Regions from separate parts of the Homo sapiens genome. Here all the other regions are linked to region 3. Evidence: fine-mapped QTL for protein levels in blood plasma. Region 3 holds a variant in brackets. A gene starts in each other region. All regions are shown on their forward strands. Distances are from middle to middle. Region 1 holds the start of RSPO3 (R-spondin 3). Region 2 holds the start of CXCL9 (C-X-C motif chemokine ligand 9). Region 3 has its middle 7.9 kb from the start of LPA.

What was found. PIP is the posterior inclusion probability: the model's chance that the variant is causal. The UK Biobank Pharma Proteomics Project read protein levels with antibody pairs (Olink). The fine-mapping took linkage between variants from a reference panel, not from the people measured, so its PIPs are less certain.
Region 1: RSPO3 starts here. The variant in region 3 is fine-mapped to the plasma level of the RSPO3 protein (UK Biobank, PIP above 0.99).
Region 2: CXCL9 starts here. The variant in region 3 is fine-mapped to the plasma level of the CXCL9 protein (UK Biobank, PIP above 0.99).

The regions. Positions count from the first base shown.
Region 1 is chr6:127,113,534-127,121,695 of GRCh38, forward strand. RSPO3 (R-spondin 3) reads left to right here and starts at 5,138. Exons shown (of 5, transcript NM_032784.5): 1 at 5,138-5,756. The coding sequence starts at 5,660. It overlaps LOC105377989 (a long non-coding RNA gene), which reads right to left. Exons shown (of 14, transcript XR_002956387.2): 4 at 5,368-8,162.
Region 2 is chr4:76,002,959-76,011,122 of GRCh38, forward strand. CXCL9 (C-X-C motif chemokine ligand 9) reads right to left here and starts at 4,551. Exons shown (of 4, transcript NM_002416.3): 1 at 4,428-4,551; 2 at 3,190-3,316; 3 at 1,851-1,935; 4 at 1-741. The coding sequence starts at 4,491. The coding sequence ends at 640. SDAD1-AS1 (SDAD1 antisense RNA 1) reads left to right here. Exons shown (of 3, transcript NR_125906.1): 3 at 2,115-2,984. RefSeq lists an enhancer at 8,162-8,164.
Region 3 is chr6:160,668,049-160,676,230 of GRCh38, forward strand. No RefSeq gene overlaps it. Among named protein-coding and RNA genes, the nearest start is that of LPA, 7.9 kb to the left of the region's middle. The variant C/T (reference allele first, on the strand shown) is at 3,358.

The sequences.
Region 1 (8,162 bases), 34 Mb before region 3:
GTGACTTTATCTTTCTGGATTCGGTTGTCTCATCTATGAGACAATGTTTTGAGATAATACATGTAAAAGAAGCTGCAAAAATTACTCATTGGTATTATCCCTCATCTAGCACTCTACATCTTATACTTTTTTTTTTTTTTTTGAGAAAGAGTCTCGCTCTGTTGCCCAGGCTGGAGTGCAGTGGCGCAATCTTGGGTCACTGCAACCTCCACCTCCCGGGTTCAAGCGATTCTCCTGCCTCAGCTTCCCAAGTAGCTGGGACTACAGGCACGTGCCACCACACCCGGCTAATTTTTTGTATTTTTAGTAGGGATGGGGTTTCACTGTGTTAGCCAGGATGGTCTCAATCTCCTAACCTCGTGATCTGCCCACCGCAGCCTCCCAAAGTGCTGGAATTACAGGCGTGAGCTACCGTGCCCAGCCTACAACTTATACTTTCATGTCTTTGATAGTAACCCTTCAACCTAAATCTGTGACCACAACCACTCAACCTTCACTGTTGAACTTCAGAAGAGGTTCCTGGGATGAAGGGTACATGGATATAAATCCTCATCCAAAGATAAGAATAGGAAAAATAAAATGTGACTTTTATTTCCAACTTTTTATTCCAAAAAAGAAAGTAATAACATAAAGATAAAAAGAATGGCTCTTAGTGAGATCCACATTCCTCCCTCATCTGTGATTCCTACAAACAGGTCTAAATGAGTGCTCTCTTTATGAGATGCAGAAGTCCTTTTTCCTGCTCTCTGTAGGACTCTGCCTAGAATCTCGAGTTTATAATTTGTTCTTTCTGGTTGTCCCAAAGTCTGCAGACATCTAGACAGATTGAACTTGTCCTGGATTTATCTTTGCTGGGCCAGAGTCATCTAGGATTCTTGTAATGGGTTAGGCATTTCCAGAAAATCAACAAGTTTGAAAGCAGATTTCTAAATCTGGACCTATTCAATTAAACACAATTCTGTAAGTAAAAGCTGTGATGTCACACAACTAGAAATAGCTCTGACATTTGCAATTACAAGTCTGTCTTTCTTTCTTAGAAATAGTTACATTATTGTCAGAGCTGAAAGGAACTTTGGAAATGGTTTAGTTCAATTTCCTCATTTTTCAGATGAAGAAACCTGACACACAACAATATAAGTAGAAAACAAGGACTCACCTTGATCCCCAGATTCACAATTTAGTGCCCTCTTACTACAACATACAGCCTCTTTGTACTAAAGCTCCATGATCATGCAAAATTTTCTGAGCTGTTAAATTCTTTATATTGAGTACTATTGGATATTCACATTTTAAGTGAGCCCAGCAATCAATTGATTTGTGAAATAAGTTTTAAACTTAGGCATATACCAGATGGTGCTTGCCACAATTACATAAATGTCCCATAACTTCATCTGGGAGGAAGAACATTCTTTCTTGTTGACAGAAAGTAATCCATCATGGGTCTTGATTTTCTCATTTTCTTAATGCTATATAACCATATAATCACTTTTTAAATTGCTACAATAATTCTGTCTCCTTTCTTTCTCTCTCTAAAAATAGTTTTCCATCATCTACTAATTTCAATGGTGTTTAAATGCTGCTACCCACTCTGTATTTCAGGGATGACTTCTAGCTGCATCAGTTACACACATCCCACCAGCAGTACCCTGTTTGACTTACTGACTCAGATGCATCCAGATCTGAGTAACTGGAGAGCTGTGCATTTTCAGAATCTGCATATTCGCTCTGTGGTATAATGACTGATGTCAGCCCCAACTTTGCCAAACATCTCTCATCACTACTAGTTATATCCCTTTCCAAACTATTGGGCTTGCTCTCTCTTTCTGGAGCACACCCCCTTTCACATATTTGCAGTATGGATTCAACAATATGACAATCATTTTCTTTCCTTAGAGTGCCACTGCTGCAATGGATAAAAATAACTTGTTACTGTTGTCACTGCCTGGTTGGAATAAGTGGAAGGAGAGATGAGAAGTTGCAGTATCTAGTCGGGATATGCTTAGCCTCCTATCTTTGTTCAAAGCTATTCTATTCTCCTGGCCCAAGTCTCCCAGTCTCCTGGTTATCCAAAACTCCCTGGAACTAATGTGTTTTGGAGAAAAATAAGCAAATGTTGACCTCTATGCTGAGCCTATGGTTTTTAACTTTCTTTAGGCTTGAGCTCTGAAATCCACTGGCAGCCACAGGCTACTGTGAGTGTTGTTTTCTTGTTTGAAGAAAAAAAAAAAGGTACTATGTTTTAGAAAATATGCCATGGCATGCTTTTCATAAGCTTCTAAGACAGTTGAGGGAACGTAAAACTCAGCCAGGCAAGTAAACACACATTTAATATGACGGTAATATGGATCAGGAAAAAGTTATTCTAAAGCACAGCATCAAGAGAGAAAGAATACTCTCCTCGTTTATTTAATGTTTTCCTTATGTTTCCTCTGAGCAGAGCTTATTCCTTGACAAGCTTTTCCTTCCCACTGCATCTAGCACTTCTTTTCTGGGATGGCTCAAGAACTGTAGCTTCTCATTTGGTTTGTTTATTTACTTACACTGCCATTCCTGTTCTCATCCAAACTAACATGTGTCTGCACAATGCACAGTGAAAAGTAAATGTCTTTCTTCATGTTTATTTCCCTGAAGTTGTTCATCAAATAGCTTTTTCACATCCCTTTTGCAATCTCATCCCATCCGGCTCAAGTATCCCAGATTAGAAAGGCTGTCTCTGGAGTCCTTTTCAAAGGGAGCCTCCCATAGTCTTTAAATCCCCCATGTTTTATGGTGCAGATATTCAGGATTTGAGGTATTAGCAAGAAGGAAAGCAAAGCAGATGGGGACAGGCACAGTAAAATAGAGTGGCTTCTTTTTTGGATAATCATTATTGGAATTGTCTTGTTATCTGTAACTTCGCTGGTTCAAAGTGATAAACTCAGTCATTTATAAGTAGACACTTTGCAACAGATAAAGGATGGAAAGTCTGTGTGTGGGGGTGTGCACACACATGTGCATACAATGTACAGAAAAAGTTCTACCACTGAAAGAGGGATGTTGTAAATGGGAGCTCTTAAAAAGAAGGCAAAAATCATAATCCTGTTGAGGTGTCATCTTCCTCATAATATCAAACCTAAAGGAGACTATGCCTACTTTCGAAATTCCAACACGAGCATGCAAAATAATAAATGATATTTAATTAAAGAATTAACATCAAAAGGCCATCTCTCAGATTCTAATTTTTAGCATCTTGAAAATAATGCATATTTCAAGTTCCCTTCCTTTTGCATCCAGGCCACTTTATCGCCTCTATCCTACTTTTGGGATGTATAACAAATATACCACTAAAGGACTCCAGAGACATACAATTCACAGCATTGCAAACTTACAAAATGCTCTAATTCATGTAAATTTACCTAATTTACATAAATTGAAGGCAATCCAGTAATAGGGATTACAAATGGAGGAAGGAGATAGAAGTGCAAGTGTCACTTGCTACTCTGCAAGGCTTTAGCAATTGACTTACACTGAATTATTTGAGCACAAAAATTAGCAAAGCACCTATGAATCAGGGACTCTTTCAAAGTGACCTCCCAGAAGTTTGCTGCTGTGTTAACCTGTAGTGCTAGTGTAGTCCTTCAGATATTCTGTTAAATATAATACATAGGGCAGGCTTATGTTAAAATCACTTGAGGCTTGTGACTTTCGACTAAATACTTCTTCAGTAATTACTGAAAAGTTCATCGGCTGGTGCTACCGGAGAAAAGACGTGGAAAGCTCACCATTTACTAACGACAGCCAGGGTGTGCCCCACTCAGGGGTGCCGGCCCTCTGTTCTCCCATCCCTGGGTGGGCCAGAGCATCTTACTCTCTGCTGCCTTGGGCCTCCACTTGGGCTGGGAAGATAAGAAAGTAGTGGACCTTCCCCTTCCTTCCCCAAGACTGGGAAAATCTTTCCAAATCTTATTCCCAGTCTTCCAGATGCGAGATTAGAATGTACAACAGATCCTCTCAAGAACACTGGGAGACCGAGGGTGGGAGAGAAAACTCCAAGGGGGGCGAGCTGACTATAGAGGGAATTGCCTGAGCGGGAAAGGAATCTTCCAAAGCCACAGAAAAGCCTTGGTTTGGAAGAAAGCCGTAGCACAGCTGCATTTCCAACGGGAAGGTCCTGAGCGCACACACTTCTGGGTCCTCCCCGCTCGGAGCAGGTAAACCTCAGAGTAGCTGACCGGCAGCACCCACAGAGTTTCCTCCCCACCACCCGCCTGGCGACCAACTGCAGCCGAAAAGAAAGAAAGAAAGGAAAGAAAGAAAGAAAGAAGAAGGAAGGAAGGAAGGAAGGAAGGAAGGAAGGAAGGAAGGAAAGAAAGAAAGAAAGACAAAGAAAGAGGAAGGAAGAAAGAAAGAAAAGAAAGAAAGAGAAAGAAAGAAAGAAAGAAAGAAAGAAAGAAAGAAAGAAAGAAAGAAAGAAAGAAAGAAAGAAAGAAAGAAAGAGAGAGAAAAAGAAAAAGGGAGAAAGGCAACAGAGGAGAAGGTCAGGAAAGCCGGGAACAAGTCAGCAGCCAGAAACTCTCCAGCGATCTGCCAAGGGGGAGAGGGTAGTTGCGCGCCGGCGCTGGGGATGGGGTGGGGGCGCTGGGGCACAAGGGCGCAGGGGCGCACGGCCACCGACAGCCGGGTGCGCCTAGCTTGAGGCCGCGGAGAGGAGCCGAACTGGGATGGGTGGGGGGTCTTCGGCCTCAACACTGCCTGCCAGCCCCAGTGCGCCCAAGTCTCCCCGCCAGAGCTGCCCTTCTGGAGGGGCTCTTCGCACGCACTGCTTTCCCCATTCTTCTGGCTGGAATTCTCCGGCCGTCACTGCAGTGTCCAGAGATGCTGCGCTGTAGACCCGGGACCCCTTAGGCGCCTCTTCCCGTCCCTCTGCCAAAGCGCAACGCCTGTACTTTTCCAGCTCCCTCTTTCCCTCTTGAAATTGAAAGTTATTGAGGTCGCTCAGGGTTGTTGCTCCAGCAGTTTCCTTCCCCGCCCCCGAGCTCCCCCCCGCCCCCCACAGCCATCCCCCCTCCTCTCCCCCTCCCTGCCCTCCTCTCCCTCCCCCCTCCCTGCCCTCCTCCTCCTCCTCCCCTATGTGGTGCTCCCGGGAGCCCAGCCCAACACTGGAGCGTCTCCTGCTCGCGCACGCCAGAAGCAGCTCGGGGTCTCTCCGCCGCCCCTTGGCCATGGCCGCTGTGCCGACGGCGCCCGCTCCCCTGCGCTCCAGGGGCCCCCGCCGCTGCAGCCGCAGCCGCCGCAGCTTCTGAGCCCAAGGGGCCGCCGCTGCAGCCGCCGCCGCCGCCGCTCGCCCGCCCGGATCCCGCCTGCGGCAGTTGCCGCACAACATGCTACCTGCGGCCGCCCCGGCGGCTCCTGGAACCCCGGTTCGCGGCGATGCCAGCCACCCCAGCGAAGCCGCCGCAGTTCAGTGCTTGGATAATTTGAAAGTACAATAGTTGGTTTCCCTGTCCACCCGCCCCACTTCGCTTGCCATCACAGCACGCCTATCGGATGTGAGAGGAGAAGTCCCGCTGCTCGGGCACTGTCTATATACGCCTAACACCTACATATATTTTAAAAACATTAAATATAATTAACAATCAAAAGAAAGAGGAGAAAGGAAGGGAAGCATTACTGGGTTACTATGCACTTGCGACTGATTTCTTGGCTTTTTATCATTTTGAACTTTATGGAATACATCGGCAGCCAAAACGCCTCCCGGGGAAGGCGCCAGCGAAGAAGTAAGTGCAGGGTTTTTTACGCGTTTGCTCCCTCCCGCCGCGTTCACCTGTCGGGTCGCTTTGCCTGTCCGGAGCCGGCTCCCAACTGCAGCGGTCCTCCCGCCCTGCGCCTCGCAGAGGAGATGCAGGTTCGGGCTTTGGGGGTATGGACGGCGTCTTTCACCCTTGCCTCTCGGCGCCCCTGCCTTCCGCAGCATCCTAGCCGGTGCGAGGGGCGGGCGGACGCGGCGCTAAGGTGGCTCCCGCCCCATGGTAACTTCAGGTTCGCGGGAAAGTTCGGTCCTGGGTTAGACTCGCACCCGGGATTTGTGCTTTCCTTTTGAGGATCGGACAGGGGCACCCAGCCGAAGGCACTTGGGACTCCCAGACGCAGGATGCCTCTGACCGCTGAGTAAATGACAAGGGAGGCGCGGCCGCGGTACCCGCTCACCTAGCGCAACCGCCTCGCGCGGGGAGACCTCGGCTGGGCCCTTAGGCTGGACTCCGGTAGCCGAACGCCCGCTACCCGGCCAGGAAGCCAGGGAGCGAGCGCCTGCGCGGCCGCATCCCCGACACGCACCAGCGGAGCCAAAGGGCGCGCGAGGCGATGGGGTTCGCGTGTCTGCGCGTTTGCAGAGCTGCCGGACGTCCCCCGCCCGAGGGTTGAAGACAGCAAAACCCCAGCTGTGGGGAGCCGGAGGTGCGGAGTTTCCAGGTTCTCTCTTGTCACATGTGAGCGTCTGTACCATCTCTGGCCCTTTCAAGTGTGTCCCCTGGGACACACACGTACAGAGAGTGGGGTCTCCCTAAAGATTCGCCTCCTCGCTGCCCTTAATGCTGTTATTTGGAGGGTTGGATTGTGATGGCTTCTTAAGACGGTGTCCTAGCTGGAATTAAGCGGACACCACCACGGCAGCCTCAACCTGGGTTGGTCTGTCTGAAAGGTAGAATCTTCCCAAGATGAAGGGACAGATGCGAAGGTGTCACCTCTCCTCGCTCCAGGGTAGCCTGGCGCCCTCGCTGCTCTAGTGTCTGTGTTCCCATGGGGAGTCCTTTCGCAGATCTCAGAGCAGGGGCGACCCTGGCTCTATGGTTGGGGGCGCTGGTGGAGAGAGGGAGGAGGAAACTTCTCCTGGAGCTCGCGAGGGGCAGGAAGCGATGCTGCTGCTCTGGGCTCTCGCACCTCCGCGGCGTGCAGCCCAGGCCCAGCGGCCCCACCTGGTTTCCCAAGGGGATCCCTCTCCCAGCGTCCCGCCCGGGAAGCCTTTCGGGGCAGACGTCGGGGCAGCGCGGAGGACACAACACCGGCTTGTGTGAGATGGAAATTTAGTAATCGCTTCTCGGCCGCTGTTTGTCCCTGCCCTGCCCCTGGGCATGAGGGTCCCCTGAAAGCTCCCTTTGTATTGCTGGCCTCGGCCAGACAAGGTTTGATTCACCTGAAAATTGCCTTTTAAAAAGGTGGCAGTGCCAGAGCGACAGGGGCCCTGGCCGGGCCTCACCGCCTTTAGGATCACCTAGCAGGGGGCAGGAGAGCCCAAACTAAATATGTCAGGGCATCCGATTTATTATTCTTGGCCTCCGAATGGTGTGTACTCTGGTAACTCCCCACCCACTCTTTCATTCCGGCCCGGACGCGGAAGGGGAGGCCTGGGGTTCAGCGGTGTCCACGCGCCTGGCGGTCCCCGCCTCCTCTCCTCCCAGGGTCTGGCCTGGGGAATTGAGTCTCAGGGTCAGTGGGCATAGGGAGCCCGGGCTGGAGCGCAACCCACTCTGCTTTCCATCCGCTCTTCCAGCCCGTGCCCATTGGGCGTCCCAGAGCACGCTCTCTCCTTTACCCCCACCGAGGACCCCCGGGCTGGGAGCCACACACTTGTCAAGGAGGGACAGGGTACTGAGTGTCAGAGGCGTCTCGCTTTGCAGTTTTGGGGCCCCTGATTCTGAAGGAAGACACAGGAAAGAAAGCTTGTAGTCCTTTTGTGCCCACCTCCCCCAGCGAGGACCACGGCGCAGGAAGCTTTCCCCGGGCGCTGCCTCAGGGAGCTGTGGGATGATGCACCTCTAGGTTGGGCCGAGAGGAGTCAAAAGGCAAACTGCTTTTCGACCTGCCTTAATCATCTCAAGGCCAAGTCAAAGGAGACCTCTGTTTGTGTTGAGGGGATGAAAGAAGGAATAGTGGAACTGGGTTGCAATTCCAATTTTTCTGTGGGAGTGGGACTGGGAGACAGCACCCACAGCGATGCTCTTGCTCCTTCGCACTTGAGTCTGCGTTTGCGGCTTGGTTTGCTGGTGCAATCCTGGTAGAGGGGCGACCCCTTGCGTCCTCGGAGGAGACAGACTAGACTCTTGGCAGGTGCAGTATGACTTAAGGAGGAAGGAGTGGAGGGTAGAGAGGTCCTCTTTAAATGCCCAGAAACTCAAGGTCAAACT
Region 2 (8,164 bases), not on the chromosome of region 3:
GAAATAAAGTGGTCAGCCTGAGCGGGCAAGATGGAATCACATGGCTTCCAAAGCCAGAAAGGAGGCTCTGAAAGCCACACACTGGTGATCTCCAGTGGTGATACCCAATAACAATCAGCATGAATCTCTCAGACACATTGTGTGTGAGGCCTGTAGGCTGATTCAAATACAGAGGTTGATGGCCACAGCAGCTTGGTGAGGTCCAGCTCAATTTCAAACTGCTTGGCTCACCAGCATGCTAACAGGCTTAGGACTTGCTGACATGTGCCTCAGATACTCTCTGGAGGCTGCAGTACGTGGAAGCCTAGGGCTGCTCTTCCAGGCAGCTGTTGTGAGTGGGATGTGGTTGGGTGAACATCTGTGTAGACATGGGTATTGCTAAAATCATGGCCTTAAGCATGATGAAATTCAACTGGTGGGTGGTAGAAGAACAAAGACAATCATAGCCTTTAACAATTCTTAACGTTTGGATTCTTAAAATCAACTTTCTAACTTTAGTTACAATTTCAGAGTAATGTTTTAAATTTTCTAGTCAAATTAATAAGCCTTTGTATTATATGCCATCCTCCTTTGGAATGATAGCGGTATAATTAAAATAGAACATTTTTAACACAGAATACTTATTGGTGAAGTGGTCTCTTATGTAGTCTTCTTTTGACGAGAACGTTGAGATTTTCGAACTTTCAGAACTTTCTTTTTTTGATGTTTTTTCCCATTCTTTTGCTTTTTCTTTTGGCTGACCTGTGAGAAGAAGGGGAAAAAGGGCAATGTTTCTGAATCTTACCATTTTTACTTCCTTTTATTTGGACTCTCCTGATCATTGTCTCATACCCACATAGTCTCAAAACCACATTAAAGTCACTTCACTCTCAGAGGGGCTCCCTTAGATTCTCTCTACTTTGCTCACTTTGAGGAGGAGGCAACAGCCTTCAAACTGGCTGTCTTTTGTCTATTCTTCTGGCTTATTACATTCTCCTGGCAACCTTGCTTACCACTCACCTGCCCCAGCTACAACCCTCTGAAGGTGGCACTATTATCATCCACGTTTTACATAGGAGGAGGCTGAGTTCTGGAGAGGGTGACTTTCCCAAATCTAGACAGCTAGTATGTGGCAGAACCTCCAGTCTGTGAGACTCCAGAACCCAATCTCCCACCCACATATTCTGTGGCTCTCTTCAAATCCAACTCCTTAGTATGCCATGCAGGATTCCTCCCGCTTTGTCCTGATCTACTTTTCTGCCTCAGTCCCTTCACTCTCTTCACACAAACTCCAGCCACATTAATGGAGGCTCCCTGAACACAGCAGGTTCTCTCATGATTCTACTCTTCTGCTCATGCTGTCCTTACCTTCCTGGCAAATTATTTATCCTTCAAGACCCAAATCAAATATCACCTGACATGAGAAATCTTCCTTAACACTTTCTCCTGCCCCATTCCCCCAGCAAAGTTAAGTACTCCCTCCTCTATGTCGTCAAGATTCTTGTGCATACTTTTATATTTCTCACATTGTACCATAATTATTAGCATATGCACTACAACAGGAAGGGACTATACCTTATTATCTTTGTATCCTGTGTCTACCATTCAATTCATTACATATTTATTGTATTAAATAAGGACAAGCTCTGTACCCCCAAGGAACACACATTCTTCCAGTGGGAGACAGAGAGGGGATACTATATGTAGGAACCTAATTTTGTCCTAGGAACAAAATAGAAGCACCATAATATGAATGAAAAATGTATTCTTAAAAGTTATGTATTCTTATAGTGTTAATGAAAAAGCAGATTCTTTGTCTTCTAAAGTTAATTTCTAAAAGAAAGAAAATTTTGATCTTCCTTTTCACCAACCTGTTTCTCCCACTTTTTAATCAGTTCCTTCACATCTGCTGAATCTGGGTTTAGACATGTTTGAACTCCATTCTTCAGTGTAGCACTGCCAAAGAAATAGCAATGAGATAGTTTTTTCTCATTAATAATTTAAATGCTTCTTCTCAGAAATAATGAAAATCAGTATGAATTGTGCTGAATTTTCTAATGAAACTACTTAAAATTATTTCCTAGGACAAGATGAGTCACTGGTTGAATTTTTTTTTTTTTCTTTTTTTGAGACAGAATTTCGCTCTGTTGCCAGGCTGGAGTACAGTGGTGCGATCTCAGCTTGCTGCAACTTCCAACTCCTGGATTCAAGCGATTCTCCTGCCTCAGCCTCCCGAATAGCTGGGACTACAGGCATGCGCCACCACGCCCAGCTAATTTTTGTATTTTTAGTAGAGACAGGGTTTTACCACATTGGCCAGGATGGTCTCAATCTCTTGACCTCATGATCTGCCCACCTCAGCCTCCCAAAGTGCTGGGATTACAGGTGTGAGCCACTGCACCCGGCCCTGGTTAAATTTTAAAAATTACTTACAGTAGACTGTCTGGAAATAATTTAAATGTTCCTTTAATTTTTCTGTATAGTCTGAGAATAAGAGTAGTCAAGGATGACTTATAAAGACAAAATATGCACACATCCTTCAACCTAGCAATCCTAATCTCTAGAAAGGAAAGAATTACAGACACAATACTGCCACAGTAAGTTTTATTTCAGCAGTAAAAATTTGGAAATAATCTATATTTCCAACAATAATCCTGGTCATATAAATTATGGTTTATCCATATGATGAAATACAGTTTGGCCATTAAAAATGACATTAAGTAAAAATGACATTATTAGAGATTTACTGACACGAGAAAATGTTCATGATATAGTGTTAATGAAAAAGCAGATTACAAAACAGTGTATAGTATATGATTTAATTTTTGTGCTTATATACGTGTATGTAAAAACATATCTATGTTATGTGCACACGAAGCAAGTAAGGAAGATTTAGAAAACTGTATACTAAGGGGTTAACAGTATTTGTCACTCAAGGGTAGAATTATGCGTGATTTTTATTTTCTTCTATTGTGTTACCTGCATTAAACATTTTGTACAATAAACATGTGTCATTCTTGGGGCCTAATCTACCAGAAATTCCTTGCATTTTTAAGGAGAAGAAAAGAAAGGAGCTGCCCAAATTTATGGAGGGGGTAACCATCTGATTTTTAAGTGTTTGTATGGGCAAGCACTCCAAGGGTAAAACTCATGCTAAATTTAATGTTCTTGCCAATATGGTGCATGCATGTTAGCTGGGTTGTTACTTACATGATTTCAATTTTCTCGCAGGAAGGGCTTGGGGCAAATTGTTTAAGGTCTTTCAAGGATTGTAGGTGGATAGTCCCTTGGTTGGTGCTGATGCAGGAACAGCGACCCTTTCTCACTACTGGGGTTCCTGAGGGAAAGAAAAAGATAGAACACATCAGTATAGGCCAATGTTTCAGTTTAGGTGATCTATCAAAATGATACACTTGACTGAGTCATGATTATTGCTATCATTTACCGAGTGCCTAAAAATAATCACCACAAACCTTTGAAGGAGGTATCATCTCTATTTTATACATAAGGAAACTAAGGTTCAGAAAGATTAAGAACAAAGTCATACAGCTTTTAGGGAGCAGGGGCAGGGTTTTAGCCCAGATCTCTCTGAGTCCAAAGGCGTTGCTCTTAACTACCACACCGTAAGTCCGTGGGAGAAAAAGAGACTTTCACAATATTTAATAAATGCCTATCACAAGACAAACAGATAACTAATTCATGTATGCTATGCTGATCACAGTTTCTTAAGCAACTCCTAAACCATCTATTATTTATTATCTGACCTTAAGGAATGGAACTGGTGTTGGTGTTGAATAGAAAGCACTCCTTTGTAACCAATCACCACTTTCATCCTCATCCTCTCTCCTCCCCACTGCCTTGCTTTTCAATAGTGTTTTAAATTTTTGAAAACCCCTTAAAATACATTATCTTAATTCTTAAATTCATATATTTACTTGGTACTTATTGTACCATATGCCATACATTGTGTAGCAGTCAGAAAAGGTATAACTACAAAGTTCTATTTTACAGATGATGAGGAAACTGAGGTCTAGAAAGATTAAGTAATTTGTCCAAGGTAACAAAGATAGTTAGTAAATAGATTAGGGACAAATTCTCTGATTATTGGTTGGATCCTTAATTGGTTAGCCACAGATATACTTAGCAAAAAACAGTATCAGGGAGAAGAAAATAATTTAGGAGATAGAGTTCTCATTATTACCCAGTTCAATGAACATTTATTGAACACTTACTAGGAATTCATACACCTAGACTACAAAGACTTGTGTTTGACTTGGCAGATCGAAGTTATGAACTTTGGATAACTGGTCATGTCACTGAGAAGCTTTTATGACTGACCAAATATTACTCTTCAATGCAGGCAGAACATTCACCTTTATCTGGCTAATCAAGATTCTTTTACAGTGAATCACTTCTCTTACTTTACAACCTAACTCAGAACCCCTTACCTTGCACTCCAATCAGAACCAGCAAGATGATGCCCAAGAGGAAAAGAACACCACTTTTCTTCATAGTGATAGAATGGAGTTCCAAGTCACTCCTGTATTGGATTTTGAGCCTGAGAAATTCTTTAGAGAACACATTTTGGGGATCATATTTATTTAGGATATTCATTTCTCTCCTAAACTCTGATTGGCTAGTATCTTTAGCTGAGCTAACTAAATTGACCACAAACTTGATTGTGCTGGGGGAAACCCTAGTCTCAGATCCAAGGGAATTTCTGCATGTTTTTATTTCCATTTCACATAAATGGGTGGTTTATAGTAAGGGATGTGAAACTAGCAACACTGATAGCCTTTGGCACATTCACAGTTGCTCACCTGTGTGAAGAATAGGTTATATAATGAATATACTAATGTTATACAACAAAGGTTGGAGATGTGGTTTCCAGATGGGAAATATTAAAGTCCAGATAAATAATATACTTTTCAAATTCCCTTACTATTTATGGCATATTCTTCTGTATAATAGATGGCTACATTGATATTTTCTTATATTGCCCACTTAACAACTTAAAGCACCTTAATTTCCTCTGGGACCAGGTCATTTTCTACTAGTGGTAAGCTCATTCTGTATCATTCCTGCTACAGTATTATTTTTTAAACTAATAAATTGGTTAGAATAAGGGGTCAGTTGCATGTAAGAGACCCAAATTAACAGTGGCTAAGAAATGCAATAAAAATGAAGATAAATAGCTGGGACCTAATTAAAGAGCTTTTGCACAGCAAAAGGAACAGTCAGCAGAGTAAACAGACAACCCACAGAGTGGGAGAAAATCTTCACAATCTATATACCTGACAAAGGACTAATATCCAGAATCTAGAATGAATTCAAACAAATCATTAAGTAAAAAACAAACAATCCCATTAAAAAGTGGGCTAAGGACATCAATATACAATTCTCAAAAGAAGATACACGAATAGCCAACAAACATATGAAAAAATGCTCATCACTAATGATCAGGGAAATGCAAATCAAAACCACGGTGTGATACCACCTTACACCTGCAAGAATGGCCATAATCAAAAAATCAAAAAACAGCAGATGTTGGTGTGGACTTGGTGATCAGGGAACACTTCTACACTGCTGGTGGGAATGTAAACTAGCACAGCCGCTATGGAAAACAGTGTGGAGATTCCTTAAAGAACTAAAAAGCAGAATTACCATTTTATCCAGCAATCCCACTACTGGGTATCTACCCAGAGGAAAAGAAGTCATTATTTGAAAAATGTACTTGCACATGCATGTTTATAGCAGCACAATTCACAATTGCAAAATCATGGAACCAACCCAAATGCCCATCAATCAATGAGTGAATAAAGAAACTGTGGTTTATATATACACAATCGAATACTACTCAGTCACAAAAAGGAATGAATTAACGGCATTAGCAGTGACCTGGATGAGATTGGAGACTATTATTCTAAGTGAAGTAACTCAGGAATGGAAAACCAATCATCATCTGTTCTCACTGGTATGTGGGAGCTAAGCTATGAGGACACAAAGGCATAAGAATGATACAATGGAGTTTGGGGACTTGTGGAGAAGAGTGGGAGCGGGGTGAGGGATAAAAGACTACAAATAGGGTGCAGTGTATACTGCTTGGGTGATGGGTGAACCGAAATCTCACAAATCACCACTAAAGAACTTATTCGTGTAACCAAATACCACCTGTACCCCAATAACTTATGGAAAAATAAAAAAAAAAAAAACAACAACAGAAAACAGTGGCTAAGATAGAAGCTTATTTCTCCCTGAGAGATGTAGGTGGATTAGCACTTGGATAGTGGCTCTTTCCCATGAGGTCTTCCAGGCTTCTCCTTTCTTGTGTTGTCACCATCTCTAGATTGCTGCCCTCATGCACATGGCCAAAGGTGGCTTGCCACCATGTCCAATTTCCAGGTATAGGATGATGAGAAGGCAGAAAAAGGGCATGTCCCTCCTTTTTAGACATCCTAGAAGTTGCACCCATCATTTTCTATCACCTCCCATGGAGGCAGGCCTTAATCACATGGCTACACCTAGTTGTAGGGGAAGTTAAGAAACGTCATCTTTATTTTGGTTGACTAGCTAAAGATTGGAGATTTCCTTATTGTAAAACAATGTTTCTCAACGTTTTTTTTCATTATGGACTCAGCACTGCATGCGTGTGTGCGCGCATGTGCACCCACACACACACACACACCCCCCCACATTTCACCTTGCTCTGAGAAAAAATAAAATGAACTGAAAACTAAATTTAATTTCTTCCTGAAGAGAGAAATCAAATGCTAAGAAATAAGATTTTGTTGGGTAGGGTTGAACCTTGGTAGGCCACTAGTCATTGCAATATCTAAAATTTTTTAGCTCTCCAAGAACCAATATTTTCCCCCTTGGGAGCAATTTACCTCTCTTCCCATTGACAATGCATGCTGTAGAATTGGAGGAAAATGGATATTAGCATTTCATGTCACATGGTGCACATTTTTTGACTGACTTCTATACAGATTATTAATACTTAAATGGAATTACAGAATTCTTTTTGAATAAAACATGTGGTGACCATTGATACAGCTTATCCATTTGCTCATGCTTAATTTTGGTACTGACTGTGGCAATGCATAGAGTGCAAATAGGTTCACGTTCCTGCTTTACCACTTAATGACTGTGTGCAAAATACTTAATTTTTGTGAGCTTCATCTCCCTCATTTAAGAAAATTATTAGACCTCACAGGGTGTTAAAATTAATGCCAAGGACGGATTGTCAACTGCAAAGCCTCACAGGGCTAGTGGCTGTTCTTTCCAGCAAAGAAAGGAGGATGGAAATTTCTTAGGATAAGAACTAAGGCCCAGCACTGTTGGTGCTACCCACCTTTCTAGCCTCTTCTTACACAGCTCTCTGCTCCCATCACTTTGTCTTCTCTCAGTTTTCTTTTCTTTTCTCCTTCTCCTTCCCCTCCCCTCTTCTTTTCTTTTCTTTTCTTTCTTTTTGAGACCGTTTTTTTTTTTTGCCCAGGCTAGAGTGCAATGGTGCAATCTCAGCTCACGGCAACTTTCGTCTCCCAGGCTCAAGCGATTCTCCTGCCTCAGCCTCCCAAGTAGCTGGGATTACAGGCATCCACCACCATGCCAGGCTAATTTCTGTATTTTTAGTAGAGACCGGGTTTCACCACGTTGCCCAGGCCGGTCTCGAACTCCTGACCTCAAGTGATCTGCCCGCCCTCCCAAAGTGCTGCAATTGCAGGCGTGAGCCACTGCACCCGGCCCTTCTCTCAGTTTTCAAAGGGGACAATGCTCCTTCCCATGGCACTGTTTTTGCTCATGCCATTCTTCTGCCTGGAGCGACTGTGCATGCTCCTCATTCCTGCCCTCCTGCATAGTAGTTACTCACCATAGTTACCCAGGCCAGCATCATTTCCCTGGGAAGACTTTCCTGAACCCCAGAGGGGCTCTCACCGCACACTTGCAGAGGCCTTGCTGAGCCCGTGTCCGCAGCAACGCTACGTTTCCCTGCAACCCTATGGTTAACATTTCCTTCCACCACTAGGCAAGGAAGGCCTGCGACGCTCCCCGTCTGAGCATGGTGCTAAACACAGTGCCTAGCACCCAGTAAGCGCACACGCATGAGGGAAGGAGCTGGGAGCTGGCTCGGCAGGTCTGGAAGTTGGATAGGGTCTGTAAAGGGCTGCCTGGCTCCAGGGGCCTC
Region 3 (8,182 bases):
GTTGCCAGGAAAGTTGATGTGGTCTGCGAGTAGGTGCTGCCATCCAGTGGCCGACATAGAGATGTCATCTCTGAGGGCAGGTAGGCCACAGGTGACAAGAGGATTGAAGCCCTCCCTGATGGGGCCTTGGGGAGAGGGCAGCAGGGTAAGTCCAGCGGCAGGATCAGTCCATTGATTGTGGATGACGACTGACCTGGAAAATCCCCTTGGCCTCAACACCTCCAAACTCTGCATTTGATCCAAGTCAGGGAACACCTGGAAACATGAAGGGGAGAGCAGGAAAACTTTGACCTCCCTCTCAGAGGCTGAGAACGCCAATTGACCTGATGTCATTATTGACATGTAGAAAATTGATGAACAGGCCTGAGTTATGTTTTGTGGCACCTCATGGTCTAGTTAGTGTTCTGAGAATCATTTTCTCAGTGGACCTGCAGGTGAGACCAGGCGAGGCAGAAGCCTAGTGGGGGATGGTGGTTAGAAATGTGTGGATGGTTGTGGGGCAGAAGAAACAGCAAGTAGGCTCTGGGCCAGCTACAAACTGGTTATATGATGTCTACTGATGATGATAGTGATGGTGGTGGTGGTGGTGATGGTGGTGGTGGTAATAATTGTGATGGTGGTGGAATGATGATGATGGTGGTGGTGGGTAGTAATGATGGTGTTGGTGATGGTGGTAGTGGTCGTGGTGATGGTGATAGTGATAGTGATGGTGGTGGTAATGATAATGCTAATGGTGGTGGTAATGATAATGATTATCATGATGATAGCGGTGGTGATGGTGATGGTGATGATAATGGTGATGGTGGTAGAATGATGATGATGGTGATGGTGGTGGTGGTGGTAGTAATGATGATGGTGGTGGTGATGATGTTGAGGGTGATGATAATAGTGACAGTGGTGGTGGTAATGATAATGGTGATGGTGGAATGATGGTGATGGTGGTGGAATGATGATGGTGGTGCTGAGTAGTAATGATGGTGATGGTGGTGGTGGCTGTGGTGATGATGGTGGTGGTAGTGGTAGTAACGATGATGGTGGTGGTGATGATAGTGATGATGGTGATGATGTTGAGGGTGATGATAATAGTGATAGCGGTGGTGGTAATGATAATGGTGATGGTGGCGGTGGTGATGATGTTGATGAAGATGATAATGGGAGTGGTGGTGGCAATGTGGATGGTGATGATGATGTTGACGATGATGATGCTCATCACAATCACCTTATATGTTAGTACAGGTAAGAAAGCCAAGGCTAAAAGAGATTAAATAACTGCCCAATGTCACATGGAAGATGGTAGAGCCAGAATTCACACCCAGATCCTTATGATTTTAGCTTGGTGCTTTCATCAGTTGAGGTATTGGAGAGGATCTGTTTGCTTTCTGGCTGCCCAGCAGTCTATCACCCTACATCCCATAATCCTGTTGAGGGATCCACCCTTTGCCCTTCTGGGTATGAGTGGGGTCCTGCCTCCACCTCTAGCATGTAATAGCTGATGCAGGTTGGAGCCAATCAGTGATGGGTTCAGGGACAGGCCTGTGACCCAAGTTCAACCTCTCAGACCTGGCCAACTATTGTTCACTTAATGGGGACAGTGGCCTTCCTCAGTCTTTCCTGGCAAAGCAAGAGCTGCCACAGCATCTGCCACCACAAGAATCTCACCTTTGTGCCCAAGGATGATGCCTACTGCATGGCTGGACAGGGCCTGGGCCCTGGGGCCATCATGTGAGCCTAAAGACTTTTCAGCTCAACAAGAATTCCCCTTTTTTGCTTAATCCATCTTAAGTTGGATTTTCTGTCACTTGCAAGAAAGAGTCATGTTAGATACAACTCTATTCTGTATATTAGTAGGAGCTGCCATGATGGAGTGCGTAGCACGTGCTCGACACTTGATGCACATTCTTATTGTTTCTCCCCCGACAACCCTGCAGCCCCCATTTCATATAAGAAAACAATCAATGAGAGTTCATGACTTTTCTAAGTCCCGACAGCCAGTAAGTGGGAACCAGGGTTCCAATTCAGGTCTCCCTGTGCCATCCTGCACCTTCTCTGAGCCTCAGGTTCCTCACTTGTAAAATAGGAACAATAATATCTAAGTCTTAGAGGTTTGCAGCATTTAAATTTTTATAAGTGCAAAACACTGGGAGCAGCCTGGCACACCCAAAGGTGTTCCTCTTTTGCCAAGTTTCCTTTTAGTTGGCCTCAGTGTTCCCAGACTCAGGAGTGCAGAAAGGGGGATCAAGAAACCAAGGAGGATGACATTTTAAAAATAGTAGAAAAAGCACAGAAAAAGGAAAGCAAACTTTGCAATTATCTAGACCAGTGGTTTTTAACCTTTTTGTTAAACAAAAAACAAACAAACAAAAACCTTTCTTCAAATGACAGCTTATGCAAAAGGCTGATGTGGAAAACACCACTTGAAAATGCTGGTTTTACAAATGAGGGGTTGGAGTCAAGTCATACAAAGAGTTAACGTGCCTAGTCCAGGTCTGTCTGGCTAGTGGCAGAGTCAGAACGCTTTTCTAGGGCTCCAGACTCATAATGTCCTCACCAGCACCTCTGAGAAAGTCAGCAGAGTCAGAACGCTTTTCTAGGTTCCAGACTCATAATGTCCTCACCAGCACCTCTGAGAAAGTCAGGCAGAGATCCCAAAACAGTCTTAGTGTTCCAGTGGTCAAGGGGGTAAGTCTGATAGATATAATTATTGTCAGGGCATACTGAAAAATGAAGAAGGAATCCCTAAGATGTAGTCCAGGTGCTGATACCACATCCTGCACAGATGTTCCCTCTCTTTCTCTCACCCATCAACCAATACCAAATACTATCCTAGATTTGGGGCCATGGGGCCTGTCTGCCTCTCCCTTAGCTGCAGGTCCCCTGCCTAACACCCTCCCACACACATTAGACATGTGGATTTGGTAAGAAGGCTAGTTTATTATAACTTTTGTCATTATTGTTTTACATCATGTTTAGAAATACAATCTGGCTAATTTCACATAAAAAATAATCTAACACCCTTAAGGGCTGGGTGAAAACCCCACTTACCTGAGGAAGCAATATGAATGCTGGAGTTATGAATTCAGAGACTCAAAGACCTTTACTGGTTTTCTGCTTGTTTTAGGTATAAAGGAAATACACAATCATTAAAATAAAAAATGGATCACACCCCAAAACTTCAACAGCAAAACTATTTTGCTAACATGCCCCACTATGAAACCAAAGACAAGAAGTCAGCTACAAATAAAGACCCTGTACAAGGCCTTGGCCCTGTGAAAACCTCCAAAGAAGAAGTCTATTGGCTGTACTCAATCTACACTGCAGTTAAAGAAACACCCACACAGAGACATGAGAAAGAACCAA[C/T]GTAAGAACTCCAATAAATCAAATGGCCAGAAGGTCATATGTCCTCCAAACAACTGCACCAGTTTTCCAACAAGGGTTCTTAACAAGACTGAGCTAACTCAAATGACAGAAATATAATTCAGACTACGGATACAAATGAAGATCATCAAGATTTAGCACAATGGCAAAATCCAATTCAAGGAAATTAAAAATCACAATAAAATAATATAGAGGCTGAAAGATTAAATTGCTGGTATAAAAAAAGAACCTAACGGATCTGACAGAGCTGAGAGCTGAGAAACAAACTATAAGAATTTCACAATGCAATCCAAGTATTAATAGGAGAATAGACCAAGCTGAGGAAAGGATCTCAGAAATGGAAGACTAGCTCTCTGCAATCAGACAGTTGACAAAAATGAAGAAAAAAGAAGGAAAATGAATGAACAAAACCTACAAGAAATATGGGGAAAAAAGGCCAAATCTACAAATCATTGGCATCTCTGAAAGGGATGGGGAGAAAGCTAACAATCTGGAAAACAATTTAGGATACCAACCATGAAAACTTCCCCAATCTTGCTAGAGAGGCCAACAGTCAAATTCAGAAAATACAGAGAATCCCTGCCAGATTCTACACAAGAAGATCATCCCAAGACACATAATCATCAGCTTTTCCAAGGTCAAAATGAAAGACAGAATGTTAAAGGCAACTAGAGAGAAAGGGCAGGTCATCTACAAAGGGAACCCCATCAACCTAACAGCATACCTCTCAGCTGAACCTCTGCAAGCCAGAAGAGATTGTGGGCCTATATTCAACATTTTAAAATATATATATATTCAGCCAAAAATTTCATATCCAACCAAACTAAGCTTCCTAAGCAACAGAGAAATAAGATCCCTTTTAGATAAGCAAATGTTGAGGGAGTTTGTTACCACCAGACCTGCCTTACAAGAGATCTTGAAAAGAGCACCAACTATAGAAAGGAAAGAGGGCTACTAGCCAATACAAAAATACAATTAAATTCACAAACCAGTGACACTATAAAGCCACCACACAAACAAGCCAGCATAAAAACACAATCAGAGCATCAAATTCACACATACCAATACTTGCCTTGAATGTAAATGGGCTAAATGCCCAACTTAAGAGGCACAGAGTGGCAAGCTCGATAAAAAAGCAAGACCCAATTGTATGCTGTTGTCAAGAGAACCATCTCACATGTAATGACACCCAAAGGCTCAAAATAAAGAGATGGAGGAGAATCTACCACGCAAATGGAAATCAGAAAAAAGCAGGGGTGGCAATCCTAATTTCAGACAAAACAGACTTTAAACCAACAAAGACCAAAAAAGACAAAGAAGGGCATTACATAATGGTAAAGGGTTCAATTCAACAAGACCAACTATCCTAAATATATATGCATCCAACACAAGAGCACCCAGCTTCATAAAGAAAGTTCTTAGAGACCTACAAAGAGACTGAGATGCCCACACAATAATAGTGGGAGACTTCAGCAGTTCACTGACAGTATTAGACAGATCATTGAGGCAGAAAACTTACAAAGATATTCAGGACCTGAACTCAACATTGGATCAAATGGATCTGATAGACCTCCACAGAACTCTCTACCCCCAAACAATAGAATATATATTATTCTCATAATCACATGGCACATTCTCTAAAAATCAACCACATAATTGGACATAAAACAATCCTCAGCAAATGCAAAAGAACCAAAATTATACCAAAAACACCCTCAGACGACAGCTCAATAAAAATAGAAGCCAAGACTAAGAAAATTACTCAAAACCATGCAATTACATGGGAATTAAACAACATGCTCCTGAATGACTTGGGGGTAAATAATAAAACTAAGGCAGAAATCAAGAAGTTCTTTGAAACTAAAGAGAATTAAGAAACAACATACTGGAATCTCTGGGACACAGCTAAGGTAGTGTTAAGAGGGAAATTCATAGCATTAAAAGCTCACATCAAAAAGAAAGATCCCAAAGTAAGAACCTAACATCACAACTTGAAGAATTAGAGAAACAAGAGCAAATCAACTCCAAAACTAGCAGCAGGCAAGGAAAACCAAAATCAGAGTTGAAATGAAGAAAGTCAAGACATGAAAAAACATTCAAAAGATCAACAAATCCAAGAGTTGGTTTTTTGAAAACATTAATAAGACAGATAGTTTGCTACCTGGCTAATAAAGAAGAAAAGAGAGAGAAGACCCAAAGTAACACAATTACAAATGACAAGGGGGATGTTAGCACTGACCCCACAAAAATAAAAATAACCATCAGAAACTACTACAGACAGCTCTATGCACACAAACTAGAAAATCTAGAAGAGATGGATAAATTACTGGACACATACACCCTCCCAAGACAGAACCAGGAAGAAATTGATTCCTTGAACAGAACCACAATGATCTCCAAAATTGAATCAGTAATGAATAGCCTACTAAGAAACAAAAGGCCAGGACCAGATAGATTCACAGCTGAATTCTACCAGATGTGCAAAGAAGAGCTAGTACCATTCCTACTGAAACGTCAAAAAAAATTGAGGAAGAGGGACTGCTTCCCATTTTATTCTATGAGGCCAGCATCATCCTGATACCAAAACCTGAAAGAGACACAACAACAATAAAAACTTCAGGCTGATATCCTTGATGAACACTGATACAAAAATCCTCAACAAAATACTTGCAAACCTAATCCAGCAGGACATCAAAAAGCTAATCCATCATGATCAAATAGTCTTCATCCCTGGGATGTAAGATTGGTTCAACATATGTAAATCAATAAAATGTGACTCATCACATAAATGTGACTAAAGACAAAACCCACATGATTATCTTGATAGATGCAGAAAAGGCTTTTGAAAAAATGTACCACCGTTCATGTTGAAAACTCTCAATAAACTAGGTATTGAAGGAATATATCTCAAAATAATAAGAGACATCTATGACAAACCCACAGCCAGCATCATACTGAATGGGCAAAAGCTGGATGCATTCCCCTTGAAAACCAGCACAAGGTAAGGATGCCCTCTCTCATCAGTCCTATTCAACACAGTATTGGAAGTCCTGGCCAGAGCAGTCAAGCAAGGGAAAGAAATAAAGAGCATCCATACGGGAAGAGAGGAAATCAAACTATCCCTGTTTGCAGATGACATGATTCTGTATCTAGAAAACCCCATAGTCTCAGCCCAAAAGCTCCTTCTCTGTTAATCAACTTCAGCAAAGTTTCAGAATACAAAATCAAAATACAAAAATCACTAGCATCCCTATACACCAAGAGCCAAGCCGAGAGCCAAATCAGGAACACAATCCCATTCACAATTGCCACAAAAAATAAAATACCTAAGAATACAGCCAACCAGGGCGGTGACAGATCTCTACATTGAGAATTACAAAATGCTGCTCAAAGAAATCAGGGATGACACAAGTGAATGGAAAAACATTCCATGCTCATGGATCGGAAGAATCAATATCATTAAAATGGCCATATGGCCCAAAGTAATTTACAGATTCATTGCTATTCCTATCAAACTGCCAATGACATTCTTCACAGCACTGTTAAAAAACTATTTTAAAATTTATATAGAACCAAAAAGGAGCCAGAATACCCATGGTAATCCTAAACAAAAAGAACAAAGGTGGAGGCATCACATTACCTGTCTTCAAACTACACTTCAGGGCCATAGTAACCAAAACAACATGGTACTGGTGAAAACAAAACAAAACAAAACAAACAAACAAACAAACAGACACATAGACCAACGGGACAGAATAGAGAGCCCAGAAATAAGGCCAAACCTACAACCATCTGATCTTTGACAAAGCTGACAAAAATCAAGGTCTAATATCCAGCATCTATAAGAAACTTAAACAAATTTACAAGAAACAAAACAACTCCATTAAAAAGTATGCAAGAGACATGACCAAACACTTTTCTAAAGGAAACATACAGGCAGCCCACAAGCATATGAAAAAATGCTCAATATCACTGATAGTTAGAGAAATGTAAATCAAAACCACAACGAGAAACCATCTCATCTCAGCCAGAATGGCTATTATTTTTAAAAAAGTCAAAAAATAACAGATGCTGGAAAGGTTGTGGAGAAAAGGGAGCACTTACACACTGTTGGTGGGACTGTAAATTAGTTCATCTATTGTAGAAAGCAGTCCAGTGATTCCTCAAAGAGCTAAAAACAGACCTAACACTCAACCCAGCAATCCTATTACCGGGTATATACCCAGAGGAATATAAATTACTCTATCATAAAGACAGATGAATGTGAATGTTCATTGCAGCACTATTCATAAGAGCAAAGACTTGGAATCACCTATATGCCTATCGATGACAGATTGGATAAAGAAAATGTGGTACATATACACCATGAAATACTATGTGGCCATAAAAAAGAATGAGATAATGCCTTTTACAGGAACACGAATGGAGCTGGAGGCCATTATCCTTAGAAAACTAACACAGGAACAGAAAACCAAATACCACATGTTCACACTTACAAGTGGGAGCTAAATGATGACAACTCATGGACACAAAAATGGGAGCAACAGACACTGGGGCCTACCTGAAGGAGAAGAGCGGGAGGAGAGAGAGGAGCAGGAAATACTAAGTATTGGGTACTAGGCTTAGGACCTAGGTGACAAAATAATCTGTACAACTAACCCACGAGACACAAATTTACTTATGCAAAAAACCTGCACATGTAACCCTGAACCTAAAATAAAAGTTAAAATTAATTAAAATAGAATGAAAAAGGTTCTGAAAAAAAAAAAAAAAAAGAGAGAGACTCAAAGAAACAGTCTTCCACCCC